2 linked regions of the Homo sapiens genome follow. The protein of the gene in region 2 purifies or fractionates together with the protein of the main gene of each other region. This does not show direct contact. Each region holds a gene or a part of one and is shown on either strand. Other genes may lie near its edges. The genes, in order: MOB1A and ANXA7.

Evidence for each region.
Region 1: the proteins of ANXA7 (region 2) and MOB1A purify together in Homo sapiens (affinity purification with mass spectrometry; 2 studies listed by BioGRID and IntAct, with this or other methods). This does not show direct contact.

What each region holds. Positions count from the first base shown.
Region 1 is NC_000002.12:74,154,249-74,162,510, forward strand, and holds part of MOB1A (MOB kinase activator 1A), read right to left. Parts: intron 5,007-8,262; coding exon 4,843-5,006; intron 2,398-4,842; coding exon 2,320-2,397; 3' UTR 1-2,319. UniProt on the Homo sapiens protein: Activator of LATS1/2 in the Hippo signaling pathway which plays a pivotal role in organ size control and tumor suppression by restricting proliferation and promoting apoptosis.
Region 2 is NC_000010.11:73,375,249-73,383,510, forward strand, and holds part of ANXA7 (annexin A7), read right to left. Parts: intron 8,098-8,262; coding exon 7,927-8,097; intron 4,954-7,926; coding exon 4,783-4,953; intron 4,707-4,782; coding exon 4,631-4,706; intron 3,776-4,630; coding exon 3,663-3,775; intron 970-3,662; coding exon 847-969; 3' UTR 1-846. UniProt on the Homo sapiens protein: Calcium/phospholipid-binding protein which promotes membrane fusion and is involved in exocytosis.

The sequences.
Region 1 (8,262 bases), on a different chromosome or scaffold from region 2:
TAGCCAACTCAGGAAGGCGCCATCCTCTTCCCATTATCTCCCCTTCCTCCAATTCTCCTCCTCCCCTTGGCTCCCTAGCCTTGGAGGTAAACACTAATATTTCAGTGCACTGTTGGTTAAGCCAGATTGGCTTGGGAACCTGGTAATGTTTTTATTTTTATTTTAAAAAAGGACAGTCTTGAGTCTCAAAATACCAACACATCTCTGATTTATGTCCCATTTATAAGCTGCCTTTACTACTGTCCTGACATGTGATCGTCTTTCATTTGCTTTGGAGCTTAGTGGTGAAGAGAGGGAACATTTCCATAACTGAAAATAAATGGAGAAAAGTGGTAACTCTTTTGTTTGAGAATATTTGAAATACTAGAAATAATGAGGAAAGTACAAGCCTAGCTGAGAAACTAGTTTCATCACTTGTGGACTTAAAAAAGTAAAGCTAACAGGGTTTAAAGTTGAGAGGCAGTTCACATCCTAAGTGATACCTAGAAACCTGCTTTCTTGTTCGCAAATGATCAACATGAACATACAGAATGGCTGACATTTGGACCTTTGGATAAGCTTAAAACATGGATTGTGGAATGTCTAATAGAGGGCTTTTCTCTCTTTTTTTTAATAATGACTGTCCCACACTTTAATTCCTCAATGATATGTGGATGCTAACTAAATCAGATGAAATGTTTTCTTTAAAATTCTGTATATATTTAAGAATTTCTAGGAAATGATTATTTAAAATGGAGTTTCTAAGTAATTATTTTCTTTATAGTTTAGTGGAGTAAGAAAAATAAATCTAAAAAAAAACATCAAATCTAACCTTTATCAAAGCCATCGAGGAGGTTGGTAAAATACTTTGCAAAAATCACAGCTCTGAACCACATAGAATGCTGATGAACTTAAAGCTTTGCCAGTTTGGCAAGTCTTCCAGTATAATACTTGTTGTGCCTCAGTACATTTTAAATAGACAGCTAGAGTTTACTAAATCCTAGGAATCAAATAAAAAATAAATGTTTTCTTCACTGAAGGGGAAGGCTTTTATATCCCAATAGAAATAGAGGAATTTCAAGTTTTGATACAAAAACAATTAAAACAAGATAAAACCCAAGTGGAAGCTCAGTCCATCTTTTGAATATTAACAAAATGAGGATTTTTTTAAAACTTATTTCTCCCATTTTGTTTCCTTTAAACACATACACTCACTCACTCTCTCAAGAATAGGTAGCACACCAAAACTTTATCTGTGTTATAAGATGTGTACACCTTCATGGTTTATTGTGGTTTTCCTTAAGTTTTATCCTTATTAGGATGAAGTTCATGCATTTCTACACTACTCTTAACTAAGGCTCAAGAGACAATAAAAACATAGAAGTAATTTTTTAATAAAAGGAAATAAAATAATCAAGTACTCTGAGTATTTTCCTCCATTCTCTTATCCAGAATTTTAAGGCCTCTGAAAAATAATGAAATAATAAAAATAGTGGTTTTGAGATCTAAATTTATTAATATTTTGGATTCCTTTTCTCAGCCAAAAGCTACTATCTGAATTAAGCTTTTCAGTTTAAAAGCCTGGAAGACCATCCTTAGAAGACATTAAAAAATTACTTCTGATACACACACTCCTAATAATTTAGATAGATATGAAAACAATCTCAAATAAAGATCAAAAAATAAAGTCCCTGTAAAAATAACTTTGGTTGCTCCCACCCACACGTCATATGATGATTTAAACTGCAATCATGAATTTTGAAAAAATAGACGTATCTTATCTATAAAAACACTACCATACAAACTTGAAACTAAAATGTTATCTGAAGTGACACAGATGTTCTAAATCTCAAGGATACTGAAAAATACATTTTTTATTCGTAAAATAAAAGAATAAAACCAATCTGATTGTGTTATTAGGAAATTTGTTCTGGAAACTTATTCATAAATTATTGATGGAAATTCTTAATGTCCATTGTGCTGTCACCTAAAACAGATTCAATCATTTTCTTGTAAAGAAATGACTGAGTAAATGAGTAAAAGAATAATAAGTAAATTTATAAGCTACAGGTTAACCATCACATATTACAACCAAGTATGACTATGTGATAACAACAAGAGTGGTCACACAGTACTTAAGATTTGGCTGTGTCCTTAAGGTCTTACTCGGAAACTATCACACCAACCTACCTTTGGGATAATTTTATCAGTAGACACAGGCAATGGGTATCTTTTTATCCTGTTTTCTTAAAGTTTGTATCACTAGTCTATAACAGATAGCAATGAGATAGTTCTAGCAATAGATGAAGCAAGGGGGTAACTGTGTTCTAGAAGAAACATTTATCTGTCTTTTGATCCAAGTTTCTCTATTAATTCTTGAAGAGGTGCCAGCTCACGCCTATCAATCAGATTAAACTCCTAAAAAGAGAAGAAAAATAACAATTAAAAATGGATCTAAAACTGAAACTCTGTAAATGTCTTTTGGAGAAGGGATTCCCAACTCTAGTTTTCTGAAGTCCAAAAGAATGATGAAATAACCTCTGTGAACATTTTAAAGTAGGCATTTATTCTTTTTCTTTTTTTTTTCTTTTTTGTACAGATGTGGTCTATGTTGCCAAGGCTGGTACTGAACTTTGGCCTCAAGTGATCTGCCCACCTTGGCATCCCAAATCCCAAAGTGCTAGGATTACAGGGGTAAGCCACCACGTCCAGCCCTCTCTTTTTAAAAATATAGGTATGATATTGTGATATAAGTATTTGGTCTTCCTTTTTCTTTACACACAGCTCCTAAAACCCTTGTTGGAATCACCAGAGTGCTAAGAGTATCTTGTATGCTAATGAGATGACTGGTGGCTGGAGGCTCCTATAAAGCTTCAGGATGGGAACTGGTCAACCTTCAGCCAGCCCTCTCCCCTTCCCAGATCACAGCCTCTGGGGAGGGGAAAGGGCTGGCTGAAGGTTGAGTTGATCATCAATGGCCAATTATTTAATCAATCATGGGCAAGTAATGAAGCCTCCATAAAAACACAAAAAACAGGGCTCAGGAGAGCTTCCAGATAGCTGAACACGTGGAGGTTCCTGGAGCATGGCATGCCTGGAGAGAGCATGGAAGCCCCTTCTCCTTTGGCCCTACACATCTCTTCCATCTGGCTGTTCATCTGTATCTTTTGTTAACATCTTTCATAATAAACAGGTAGAGATAAGTATTTCCCTGAGTTCTATAAGCGGCTCTAGCAAACTAATCAAACCCAAGGAGGGGGTTGTGGGAACCCTGGTTTATAGTCAGAGGTATAGGTGACAATGTATTACTTTTGATTGATATCCCAAATGGGGGGCAGTCTTGTGGGACTGAGCTCTCAAACTTGTAGGATCTGATGCTACCTCCAGATAGACATTATCAAAATTGAATCAAATTATAGGACATTCATCTGGTGTCCACTGTAGAAATGATCACTTGCTTGGTGTGTGAGGGACAGTCCCCATGTTTGGTCACAGAAGCGTTCTGTGTGGTGAGAGTATAGTAGGATAAAGGGAGTTTGTTTTTTCCCATATTTTTACAATGGGAGACTTATTAAAGAACCAACTCTAGGTATCAGTATGATCCTCATTGTGTTAAACATTAAAATCAAAACTGTATATATATTTAAATTTACATTAAAATTACCCGAAAAAGGCCGGGCATGGTGGCTCATGCCTGTAATCCCAGCATTTTGGGAGGACAAGGTGGGTGGATCATTTGAGGTCAGGAGTTCGAGATCAGCCTAGCCAACATGGTGAAACCCCATTTCTAGTAAACATAAAAATTAGCCGGGCGTGGTGGCAGGTGCCTATAATCCCAGCTACTGAGGAGGCTGAGGCAGGAGAACTGCTTGAACCCAGGAGGCAAAGGTTGCAGTTAGCCGAGATCGTGCCACTGCACTCCAGTCTGGGCGACAGAGCAAGACTCTGTCTCCAAAAAAAAAAAAAAGAGGGGGGAAAAAAAAAAAAGAAACTACCTGAAAACTACAAACTGAATTTTTGATAAAGGGCCAGTAGACCTTTTATGCAACAATCTGAGAAGGAAGATCAGGAAGAGCATGGTACAGTACACAAAACTATAATACACAGTATCTACTATAAAGCTACCAGGTTTTTTCATCATAAAATATCTAGACAGACATGTATATGTAATTCAATATGCAAAATATAAGTATCTCTAAAGTTAGGCTAAAGGCATACCAATTCTTTGATATCTTTTTCAAACAATGTGAATTATTTTGATTTTTTAAAGTTCCAATTCTGGCCGGGTGCTGTGGCTCAGGCCTGTAATTCCAGCACTTTGGGAGGCCGAGGTGGGTGGATCAGGAGTTCGAGACCAGCCTGGCCAACATGGGAAACCCCGTCTCTACTAAAAATACAAAAATTAGTTGGGGGTGGTGGTGGGCACCTGTAATCACAGCTATTCGGGAGGCCGAGGCAGGAGAATCACTTGAACCCAGGAGGCGGAGGTTGCAGTGAGCCAAGATCACGCCATTGCACTCTAGCCTGGGCCACAGAGTGAGACCCTGTCTCAAAAAAAAAAAAAAAAAAAGTTCCAATTCTGACTAAGGGTCCACAAAGCAACAGGCCACAACCCTGAATGGATAATCCTAACCACAGACCTAGGGTGGCCAGAGGCAGAAGGCCCAAATGGGGGTGATACCTTTTTATACTGCTGCACACATCAATAAAATAAATAATGTGGAAAAGAGAACAAAACAGAAAAGAGAAGCTTGCCTGTAATTGGCTCTACATCTATAACTAAGACACACAGCTCTTTGTTGAAGTTCCCAATCCAAATAAGTCCAAGTCACAGGACACAGAAATCAACATGGATCAACTTACCTGAACAAAGAAAATAAAGTGCTTAAAGGAGGTGTTGAGGTGGGCCTCCTCTTGCAGCTGCATCACAGAATCAAAGTGCTGGTGATAAATATGGGCATAAACCCTGAACAGACGCTTTAGAATAGTCTTTGCCACAGACATAAAGTTTTTGGGAAATGGGACACCTGCAATTAAATACACATATGAAACAATTATTTGGTTATCTAACAGTAGAAAGTTGTTTATTTGTGACAGGGTCTCACTTTGTCACTCAGGCAGTGGTGCAATCTCAGCTCACTGCAGCCTCGACCTCCTGGGCTCAACTGATCCTCCCACCTTGGCCCCCCAAATAACCTGCACTACACGCCACCATGCCCAGCTAATTTTTTGTATTTTTTGTAGAGATGGGGTTTTGCCATGTTGCCCAGGCTGGTCTTGAACTCCTGAGCTCAAGCAATCTGCCCGCCTCAACCTCTTAAAGTGCTAGGATTACAGGCATGCCCAGCCTAACAGCAGAAAGTTTACACACTGCCATGAGCACCTGCAACATATAAACACACACATTCATAAATACACACAAACCTACCTCTGTATATATTTTTTAAAGCCAAGGAAATGAAAACCCAAACCCCAATCCTCACAAAGTACCACACTTTTTTCTGACTGCCTTAGGCACAGGTATCAAATTATGTAAGATGCTGCTAAATCAAAGTTCAAAAATCCTGTAGTTTTAGTTTTTTGTTTTTTGTCCCCCCCCCCACCCCGGAGACTGAGCCTCACTCTGTCACCCAGGCTGGAGTTCAGTAGCATGATCATGGTTCATTGTTACCTCCACCTCCCAGGCTTAAGCAATCTGCCCACCTCAGCCTCCAAAGTAGCTGGGACTACAGGCGTGCACTACTACACCTGGCTGATTTTTGTATTTTTAGTACAGATGGGTTTTTGCCATGTTGGCCAGCCTGGTCTCGAATTCCTGGCCTCAAGTGATCTGCCTGCCTTGGCTTCCCAAAGTACTGGGATTTAGTTCTTTAATATTAGAGAGTTTCTTTCTGAAATTAAATGCAACAAGAGTAAGTATTTTGATCATAAATATTTTTACTTTGTAATTTGTAACTCTAAAGAAATTACACTGGCTCCGTGTGGTGGCTCGTGCCTGTAATCCAGCACGTTGAGAGGCCGTAGTGGACAGATTGCCTGAGCTCATAAGCCTGAGTTCAAGATAAGCCTGAGCAACAAGGTAAAACCTCATCCCTTAGGAAAAAAAAGAAGAAATTACATACATACGCACTCTCTCAATGAGGACTGGAAACTCTCCTAAGCAAAATAAAAAGGCAGCCGGGCACAGTGGCTCACGCCTGTAATCCCAGCACTTTGGGAGGCCGAGGGGGGCAGATCACGAGGTCAGGAGGTCAAGACCAGCCTGGCCAAAGAGACCAGCTTGGCCAACATGGTGAAACCCCATCTCTACTAAAAATACAAAAATTAGCCAGGGGTGGTGGCAGGCAACTGTAATCCCAGCTACTCGGGAGGCTGAGGCAGAGAATTGCTTGAACCCGGGAGGTGGAGGTTGCAGTGAGCCGAGATCGCGCCACTGCACTCCAGCCTGGGTGACAGAGCGAGACTCCGTCTCAAAAAAAAAAAGAAATCTCTTTTTAGAAAACAACGGGGGTAGAGTTTGGTATCCTTCCAAGCAGTGGAGATGGGGATCCAACTGGTTACATTCCTGAGAATTTTGGCTGACAATATCAAAGTCCATTAGAAAACAGGGACAGACAGGTCAGGAGTTCGAGACCAGCCTGACCAACATGGTGAAACCCTGTCTCTACTAAAAATACAAAAATTAGCCAGACGTGGTGACTAAGGCCTGTAATCCTAGCTACTCAAATGGCTGAGGCAGAAGAATCGCTTGAACCCAGGAGGCGGAGGTTGCAGTGAGCCAAGATTGCCGCCACTGCACTCCAGTCTGGGCGGCAGAGTGAGACTCCATCTCAAAAAATAAAAATAAAAATAAACCTACATTAGTTGGCCTTAAAGGCCTGTTCCACAACGCTACTCTTGAAACACATTCTTTTTTTCAATTTTTCAGAAAACAAAGGCTTAAAACACTCTTTCCTTGCATTTTTTTCCCAGCCAGTTCTCAATAACCTGAAACTTATTTTGCTGATGTTTGTGGTTATTCTCCACCACCACCCCAGTCCTCATTAACGTGACTTTTCAGACATTATCCTGGAGCTTACAGGCATGTTTTCCTGGGCAGGATCTTGTATTCATGTATTGAAAAAGCAGATTTCTGGCCGGGTGCAGTGGCTCATGCCTGTAATCCCAGCACTTTGGGAGGCCGAGGCGGGCGGATCATGAGGTCAGGAGATCGAGACCATCCTGGCTAACACAGTGAAACCCTGTCTCTACTAAAAATACAAAAATTAGCCAGGCGTGGTGGCGGCACCTGTAGTCCCAGCTACTCGGGAGGCTGAGACAGGAGAATGGCAGAATGGCGTGAACCCGGGAGGCGGAGCTTGCAGTGTGCTGAGATCATGCCACTGCACTCCAGCCTGGGCAACAGAGTGAGACTCCGCCTCAAAAAAAAAAAAAAGCAGTATTCTGGCCAGGTGCAGTGGCTCATGCCTGTAATCTCAAGCTCTTTGGGAGACTGAAGCAGAAAGGTTGCTTGGGCCTAGAAGTTTGAGACCAGTCTGGGCAACACAGTGAGACCTCGTGTCTACAAAAAATTGAAAATTAGCTGGGCGTGGTGGCACACGTGCCTGTGGTCTCAGCTACTCAAGTGGCTGATGTAGAAGGACCACTTGCGCCTGGGAGGTCAAGTCCACAGTGAGCTGTAACTGCACCACTGCACTCTAGCCTGGGCAACAGAGTGAGAGTCTGTCTCAAAAAAAAAAGTAGATTTCAAAATCAAACATCTTTTTTTATCAGAATGTATAAATGGGCATCTTTCTAATAAAAGGATATTAATAATGTGCATATATTAGTAAAAAATTAATGATAAACAGTTCTGTCTGAGACTAAATAACTGGCAAAAGTAAGATGCAGATAATAGCCTAATGGCAGGGGAGTGGGATTAAGAGGTGGTGGATCAGAATGAATTATTTAAGAACAAGAAAGTGAGAAAAAAGCCAGGCATGGTGGCTCATGCCTGTAATTCCAGCACTTTGGGAGGCCAAAGTGGGTGAATCACTTGAGGTCAGGAGTTCGAGACCAGCCTGGCCAACATGGTGAAACCCTGTCTCTACCTAAAACTACAAAAACTAGCCAGGTGTGGTGGTGGGCGCCTGTAGTCCCAGCTACTTGGAGGCTGAGGCACGAGAATCGCTTCAACCCAGGAAGTGGAGGTTGCAGTAGAGCCGAGACTGTGCCACTGCCCTCCAGCCTGGGTGACAGAGTGAGACCCTGTCTCCAAACAAAAAAGAGAGAAAAGAGGATAAA
Region 2 (8,262 bases):
GTAGAGCACAGTATCTATAGTTAATAATGTACTGAACACTTAAAATTTGCTAAGGTAGTAGATCTTAAGTGTTTTCACCACACATGAAAAAATGGTAACTATGTCAAGGTGACAGATACGTAATTAGCCTGACCTTAATTGTGGAATCATTACACAAGGAATGCTGATATCAAAACACCATATTGTACACCTTAAATATATGCAATTTTTTATTTGTCATAACTCAATTTAAAAAAAGAAAACAACTGCGAAAAAAAAGTAGGCTATGTATCTTAAGCATATAAACATTTGACCCTTTCTTAAAAGGTGCCACAGGTAATACTAATCTATTTTCTATGTGGAAAGTGTTTATGAATACAGAACCAATTTAGGCAAAATGAGATGCAAATTATTCTAGATGTAAAGGTTGAATTTTTTTTTAAAGTACACAGTTTTAACACACTATCCACTCTATCAAGCAGACTTAGAGGGATTCCGGAAGGCAGAGCTTTCAGTAACCTTCTAAAAAATTATTCAATATTATTACACAGAATCAGAGATTGCTGTGATTTTTATTCAATTTGACATCTTGATTAGAATGAAACTAGTAAGAATGAAGGTTTACAAACATTGCAATATTACTGTATCATTGTGATATGGCTTTACATTGATTGTATGTAGAGAACAAAATAAAATTAGAATTAAGGCAATAACAACATGTGCAAACCAAGCACATTACCCTGATACGGTCCTTGACAGAAAGCTCTTTCGGTTAGCTGATGTTTGATATTGCTGCATGCAGGTCATTGCTCTGAAGGATAAGCTATGAATAGAAATTTTTTTTCATTAAAAAAAAAAAAATCCCTCCTACTGGCCCACAATAGCCAGAAGAAGTCTTCGGTAATCTCCACTCGTGTCACCTGCAATCATTGTGCCCAGAGTCTTCTGATACATCTGAGCGAACATCTGTTTTATTTGTACAAGGTCAATCTGCATAAGAAATAATATTTCTGTCAGAAAAACATCTGTGACAACTGACATTTCTTAAAATTCTTTTTAAATAATAAGATCTTAATAATAATCAAAACTTGGGGGGGAAAACACCAAGTGACTGACATTTTATGGCTGGCACTCATACCAATGCTAGCACTACCCAATGAAGGTCTGATTCACAGCTCTGTAAAATACTTGGTCAGGGTAGTACTAGTTTCATCTATTATTCCAAAGATATTAGTCATTTAAAAACATTTGATAGGATGGCTATTATCAAAACCAAAAAAATAGTAAGTATTGGCAAGGATGCCATGAAATGGGAACACTTGTACACAGGTTGATGGAAAAGTAAAAGGGTGCAGCTGCTGTGGAAACTAATATGGTTAATTCCTCAAAGCAAAACAAAAACACTTCCAAAGAATTACAATATGACCTAGAAATTCCACTTCTGGGTATATTCAAAATAAGTGAAAGTAGACTTGAACAGATATTTGTACATCCATGTTCATAGCAGCATTATTCAGGCAGAAACAAACCAAGTGTCACAGATGAATTAAAAAAAAAACCAAAAGGTGGGATACACGTACAATAGACTATTTAATTACTCAGTCTCAAAAGGAAGGAAATTCTGACATGCTATAACATGAATAAACCTTGAGGACGCTATGCTAAGTAAAAGACAACACTCACAAAAAGACAAATATTGTATGATTCCACCAATATGACGTACCTAGAGTAGTCAAACACAGGCACAGAAAGTCACATGGTTTGTTGCCAGCAGTTGGGAGAAAGGAGAATGGGGAGTTACTGTTTAAGGAGTATGGATTTTCAGTTTTGCAAGTTGAAAAAACATCTGAAGGTGAATGGTAATGATGGTTGCATAACAATGTGAATGTACTTACTGCTACTTAAAAATGGTAAATTTTTATGTTATGTATATTTTATCACAACTTAAAACATCCTGCTTTGAAAATTTAAGTTAAAGAACAAAGTTTTTTTCAAAATACCATATTCTGGTTGTTTTCTTTAAAAATAATCTACCTTCTTTAGTATAATTTAGGGTTTTTGGCCGGGTGTGGTGGCTCATGCCTATAATCCCAGCACTTTGGGAGGCCGAGGCAGACGGATCATCAGGTCAGGAGTTCGAGACCAGCCTGACCAACATGGTGAAACCCAGTCTCTACTAAAAACACAAAAAAATTAGCCAGGCATGGTGGCACGCACCTGTAATCCCAGCTACTCAGGAGGCTGAGGCAGGAGAATCACTTGAACCCGGGAGGCAGAGGTTGCAGTAAGCCGAGATTATGCCACTGTATTTCAGCCTGGGTGACAGAGCGAGACTCCATCTCAAAAAAAAAAAAAAAAAAAAAAAAAAAAACACGCAATAATAATAATAATTTAGGGTATTTTTTTGACACAGGGTCTCTGTCACCAAGGCTGGAGTGTAGTGGTGCGATCACGGCTCACTGCAGCCTTGACCTTCCAGGCTCAGGTGATCCTTCCACCTCAACATTCTGGGTAGCTGGGACTACCATGCCGGGGGGTGGGTGTGGGTGTGTGTGTGTGTGTGTGTGTGTGTGTATTTTTTGTATAAATAGGTTTCACCGTGTGTGTGTGTGTGTGTGTGTGTGTATTTTTTGTATAAATAGGTTTCACCATGTTGCCCAGGCTACCACGCCCCGGCGTGTGTGTGTGTGTGTGTGTGTGTGTGCGCGCGCGTGTGTTTTTTGTAGAAATAGGTTTCACCATGTTGCCCAGGCTGGTCTCAAACTCCTGGGCTCAAGCAATCCTCCCGCCTTGGCCTCCCAAACTGCTGAGATTACAGGAGTAAGCCACGACACCCCGCCATGTTTTCTTTCAATTAAAAGTTCAGGCCAGGCGTGGTGGCTCACGCCTGTGATCCCAGCACTTTGGGAGGCCGAGGCAGGTGGATCACTTGAGGTCAGGAGTTCGAGACCAGCCTGGCCAACATGGTGAAACCCCATCTCTACCAAAAAAATACAAAAACTTAGCTGGGCATGGTGGCGCACACCTGTAGTCCCAGCTACTCGAGAGGCTGAGGTGACAGAATTGCTTGAACCCAGGAAGTGGAGGTTGCAGTGAGCTGAGATCGTGCCACTGCACTCCAGTCTGGGTGACAGAGTGAGACCATGTCTCAAAAAAAAAAAAAAAAAAAAAAAATTCAAATGTCATTTCTTCTGAGAAAAAAAATTTTTTGTAAGTGGAGTAAATATATAAAGTACAATTTTTAAAAATGAGGCTATACTTGAGACAATTATGAATATTTTAAAAATTGTTTTATTATTAATAAAGGATGCTAAATTTAAATAATGTTGATATCCACTAGGATTAATCTACATAGGCCTTTCATCTAATTTTTATATAAGCAAAATGAAAATCGAAAGACAAATGTCTAACTTCCCATAAATTTGTATTCTCCATTGACGTTCTCAAGTTGTAAAATCTGTTAGTATTATCTTCATTAGGGTAGAGTGGCCTATTTCACTAATGCAAGCTTCTCCCACAGCATGAGGAAAGTGAATTTTCTGTTCTTTATACCACCTCTTTTAGGTGGCAAAGAGAGCTCTTTCTTATCATTTTTGAGGGACTGACAACCAACTGGGGAACTTTTAAGAAATCAACATTGAACATCAAGTAAGACCCGACAAAAAGAGAGAGGCCTGCCTCACCTCACTTCGAGTGACCACAATCCGGACCAGGGTGGAGTCATCTGTGCCAGCACCTTTCATAGCATAGTAGAGCCTCTCAGCAAAGAAGGCAGGGCGGTTCAGGGCACACTGCACTGCAAGTTAGAGATGGTTGAGACATGGAATCATGATCTCACAAGAAGTGTACCCCTCCAGCTTCATTTATCACTTATAGCCTGCCTTTGATTATTTTCTCTGTAATCATCACAGAAACATGGGGTGAGTTAAGAGTGTTCAGATGCTCTCCTTGATTTTTTTTGAGACAGGTTCTCACTCTGTCATCCAGCCTAGAGTGCAGTGGTGCAATCATGGCTGACTGTAGCCTCCCAGACTCAGGTGATCCTCCCACCTCAGCCTTCTGAGTAGCTGGGACTACAAGTGTGAGCTACTGCCCCTGGCCCAACATTCCATTGTTAATACCAAAGTGTTACTAATACTCCCCTTAGTCCTAATATCCATGAGAATGAAACTTTCACTTTGTTAGACATCTGTGTATTAGACCACCAGAAACTGGTTAACTTCAAAAAGGAAATGAGTCTCACTGGGCTGAGTACCTGAAATATCTGTTTTGAGGACTCAAACTGCTTCGTGGTGACACTGTGAGTTCCTCAGGACTTTCCCTTTCTCTTTAAAGGAAGTGCTACAACTATCAGGTATTCTGGCACAGTTATCAAGACAGGCCTACAGATGAAGGCCAAATAATCCCCAAACAGCCCTGTTTGATCACAGAACTACCATTCATAGGAAATTGTATGTAAAAACACAGGACTGTTTCTGGGGGCTTATCCAATAAAGAAAACAAACAACAAAAAACAAACCCCAAAGGATTAGATCAGCTACTGCCTAAGCAGATTCCACGTGGACTATATTATCAACATTTAATGGGAACAACTATTCAAAGCTCCCACTCATTTAAAAAGAAAATAAAGCAAAGCACAAAAATATCTTACAGATGGTCTTCAAACCACTTTCTACATATCCGGAAAACTCACGGCTCACACTGCTTAACAAGTCTCGATTAGCCATCTGCAAACAAAATTAAAGGGTTAAATATTTTTGTATCTTACAGCAGAAGCCAAATCTTCAAAAGAAAAGCTCATACCCTAGAATAAGCCTCCATGGTAGCTCTCAGCTGAGGAAAGCTTCTTGTGGCAAGGATCATGTTAAAGCAAGATTCATCGGTCCCTAGTCTCCCCTCACCAGCTTGATAGAGACGCTGAGCATCTTCCTGAGCCATTTGGTGGTTTATACTCTGGTTCTCATCACGATTTCCCTGCAAAAGAGAAAGGCAGGAATTGGAAGAAATAAATAATAGTTCTACTAAATTTTTTTTTTCCAATCTAGTTCACTTTTGGATTTAAAGAGACTATTTCTTTTTTTTTTGAGATAGGGTCTTGCTCTGTCACTCAGGCTGGAGTGCAGTATCAACCTCCTAGGCTCAAGTGATCCTTCCACCTCAGCCTCCCAGATAGCTGGGACTACAGGCACAAACGACCATGCCTGGTTAATTTTTTTATTTTTTGTAGAGACAGCATGTCTCACTATGTTGCCCAGGTGCTGGTCTCTAACTCCTGGGCTTAAGTGATCCTCCTGCCTTAGCCTCCTAAAGTGCTGGGATTATAGATGTAAGCCACTGGGCCTGGCCTAAAGAGATAATTTATTAAAGATTAATCCATAATGTCTGTCATGCATATGCTTCATTTCTATGCATGGAAATATAACTAGTAATTTATTATACTGTCAACTGGATTTTATAATATAAGATCACGGTTTAATGAGGTTATGTTAAAAATGAGGGCTTTTGGGAGCTAAATTAAACCCAAAATGTTTAAACAAAAATATCTCTACTAGGAGATATTAACTACCACTCAAATGAAGAAACAGCTCTCTTAGCTGGAATTTAAGATCAATATGCACTGTACTGAGTTCTACTTTTTATTCATTCATGCGACTAAGAGACATTAAGCACTTTCTTTGTGTCAGGCACTGTGTTAAGCGGTAGGGACACAGGAGAGACAGGGTCTCTGCCCTCAAGAAATTTAACTCTAGGGCAGGAGGGAGGGAGGATATAATATGGAGGCTTCATAAACTTTCTTTTCTTCATCTGAGTATAATATTTTTTTTTAAGAGACACGATTTCACTATGTTGCCCAGGCTGGGGTGCAATGGCTATTTGCAGACATGATCATAGCCTCAAACTCCTGGGTTCAAGTGATCCTCCTACCTCAGCCTCCAGAGTAGCTGGGACTATAAGCTCACACCACCACACTCAGCCATCGAATTATAATCTTAATATGTAAGTATTTACCATAAATACACGCATAAAAATGACACATAAGCTTTACAGAAGCAGCTACAAATAACTCATGTTCTGTTAGACTGTGCCTATTTGTATACCACACTCTTCCCTGGAATAGGAAGAAAGGAAGGAGGAAGGAAGAGTTTAAGCTTAATGAGCAGTTGGTTTCTCTCAAAAACAGAAAGACAAACCCAAACAAGAAAAGGCTGCCTTTTAGAGTCTCAGGGACCATCTTTGGAATAAGATGGAAAAATCCTCCTTGAAGCTGAAGAACTGTCTTCTGAGCAACTGGCACAAGGAATACGTAGAGGCACATTCTACATGGGCGACTGAATATAACACAGGAAAAGGTACTCACAAAAAATTTCCCAGATTATTGCCTTTGGATTCACACACACTTTCTCAGGAAGTTACTCCTCTACTCATGCCCTGGAAAAGGTAGGGCTGGGCCTTGAACTCTGCATAAAGAGAGACTCAGCACCTCATGTAAAATCTTAATAGCCATTTTTTAGCATTGTCTGTTTTCCTTCTTGTTTCTTTTAAATCCTAACCTACTGCCCTCCTGTTACTCTGATTTAGGTAAATTCAATTTCCTTCAACCCATTTACTTTGCTTTCTCATTTCCATATCCACTATCCTTTCCACAGCTACCTCCCTTTTTTTTTTTTTAGATGGAGTTTTGCTCTTGTTACCCAGGCTGGAGTGCAATGGCACAATCTCAGCTCACTGCAACCTCTGCCTCCCGGGTTCAAGCGATTCTGCTGCCTCAGCCTCCCAGGTAGCTGGGATTACAGGTGCCACCACTCCTGGCTAATTTTTTGTATTTAGTAGAGATGGAGTTTCACCATGTTGGTCAGGCTGGTCTCAAACTCCTGACCTCAGGTGATCCACCCGCCTCAGCCTCCCAAAGTACTGGGATTACAGACATGAACCACCACACCCAGCCCCTCCCTTGGCTCTTAAGAGCCCCTCCTCTCCTTTAGATCCCTCCAGATGGTCCAATCTTGTGCACTAGCACAATAGGCAATAACTCTTGATATTGAATCAGCATGCTAGTCATTTACATAATCTCTTTCAAATACACCTTCATCATCTAAGTGTGCTTCTTTTCTTTTTTTCTTTTCTTTTTTTTAAGGACAGGATCTCACTCTATTGCCCAGGCTGGAATGCAGTGGTGCGATCACAGTTCACTGCAGCCTCAATCTCCTGGGCTCAAGTGATCCTCCCACTGAACTTCCTGAATAGCTGGCACTACAGGCACATACCACCATGTTCGGCTAATTTTTAAAAATATTTTTTATAGAGATGGTTTCTTGCTATGGTACCCAAGCTGGCTTCAAACTCCTGGCCTCAAGCAATCCTCCTGCCTTGGCCTCCAAAAGTGCTGGAATTACAGGTGTGAGGCACAATGTCTGGCCCTAAGTGTGTTTCTAATGCCATTCCAAATACCCTATTTGGAGTATTTTCTGTCAATTCTCCAGCACACCTGGGGAATCAAAATAAAGAAGGTGCTAATCACAGTTATTACTGGGAACCCTAAAACATTTTTCTGCATTTCTGGGTCTCCTCACATAGTCCTCACTTCCTGTAGCACCTCTATGGCAGTCCTGCACATCTTCACTTGATGGTGGGGCATAATGGGCAGGATAGTGATAAGCTCAAATGTACAGTTTCATCCCCATCCCAGCCACAGAGCCTCGAATTGGTTTCTGATTCCATACAACCTTAGAGGTTAAATCTCTAATTCCTTACAAAAGCCAGATTTACAGGAATAAATCTCAATAGTAACTACAAAGAAATCTGTACACTGGTTTCTGTGTTGTCCCTCTTAAAGATGGCAATATTGCAAGGTGGCTAAATATTAAAAGGAATAAAGAATGCTCACTGGCAAAAGGCTTTTAAAGTATGTTCCCTCTATCAACGCACAAGCATTCATACTATACTCACCTGGCACATGGACACAAGTAAACGTTCAAAATGTCCTGATGTATCTGACCTAATGTCCTTTTCAAGGTCTCGTCCAAATTCTGACTGATAACATCTGACAATTTCTCGGATTTCCTGATTTGTTCTTGTGCACAAAATCTCAATCAATACACGTTCCTGAGTTCCTGCTCCCTACATGAAATGAAGGGAAGATTATACAAAGAAAAATGAAATTTCTGCAAGTAATTAAATCTTCGTCAAATATTTCTTTGTTCTGTAGAACTAAAAACTATATATTCAGATGGATGATGTGAAATAAAGAATTGCTTTAATTACCACTGTAAATTCAGAACTGTC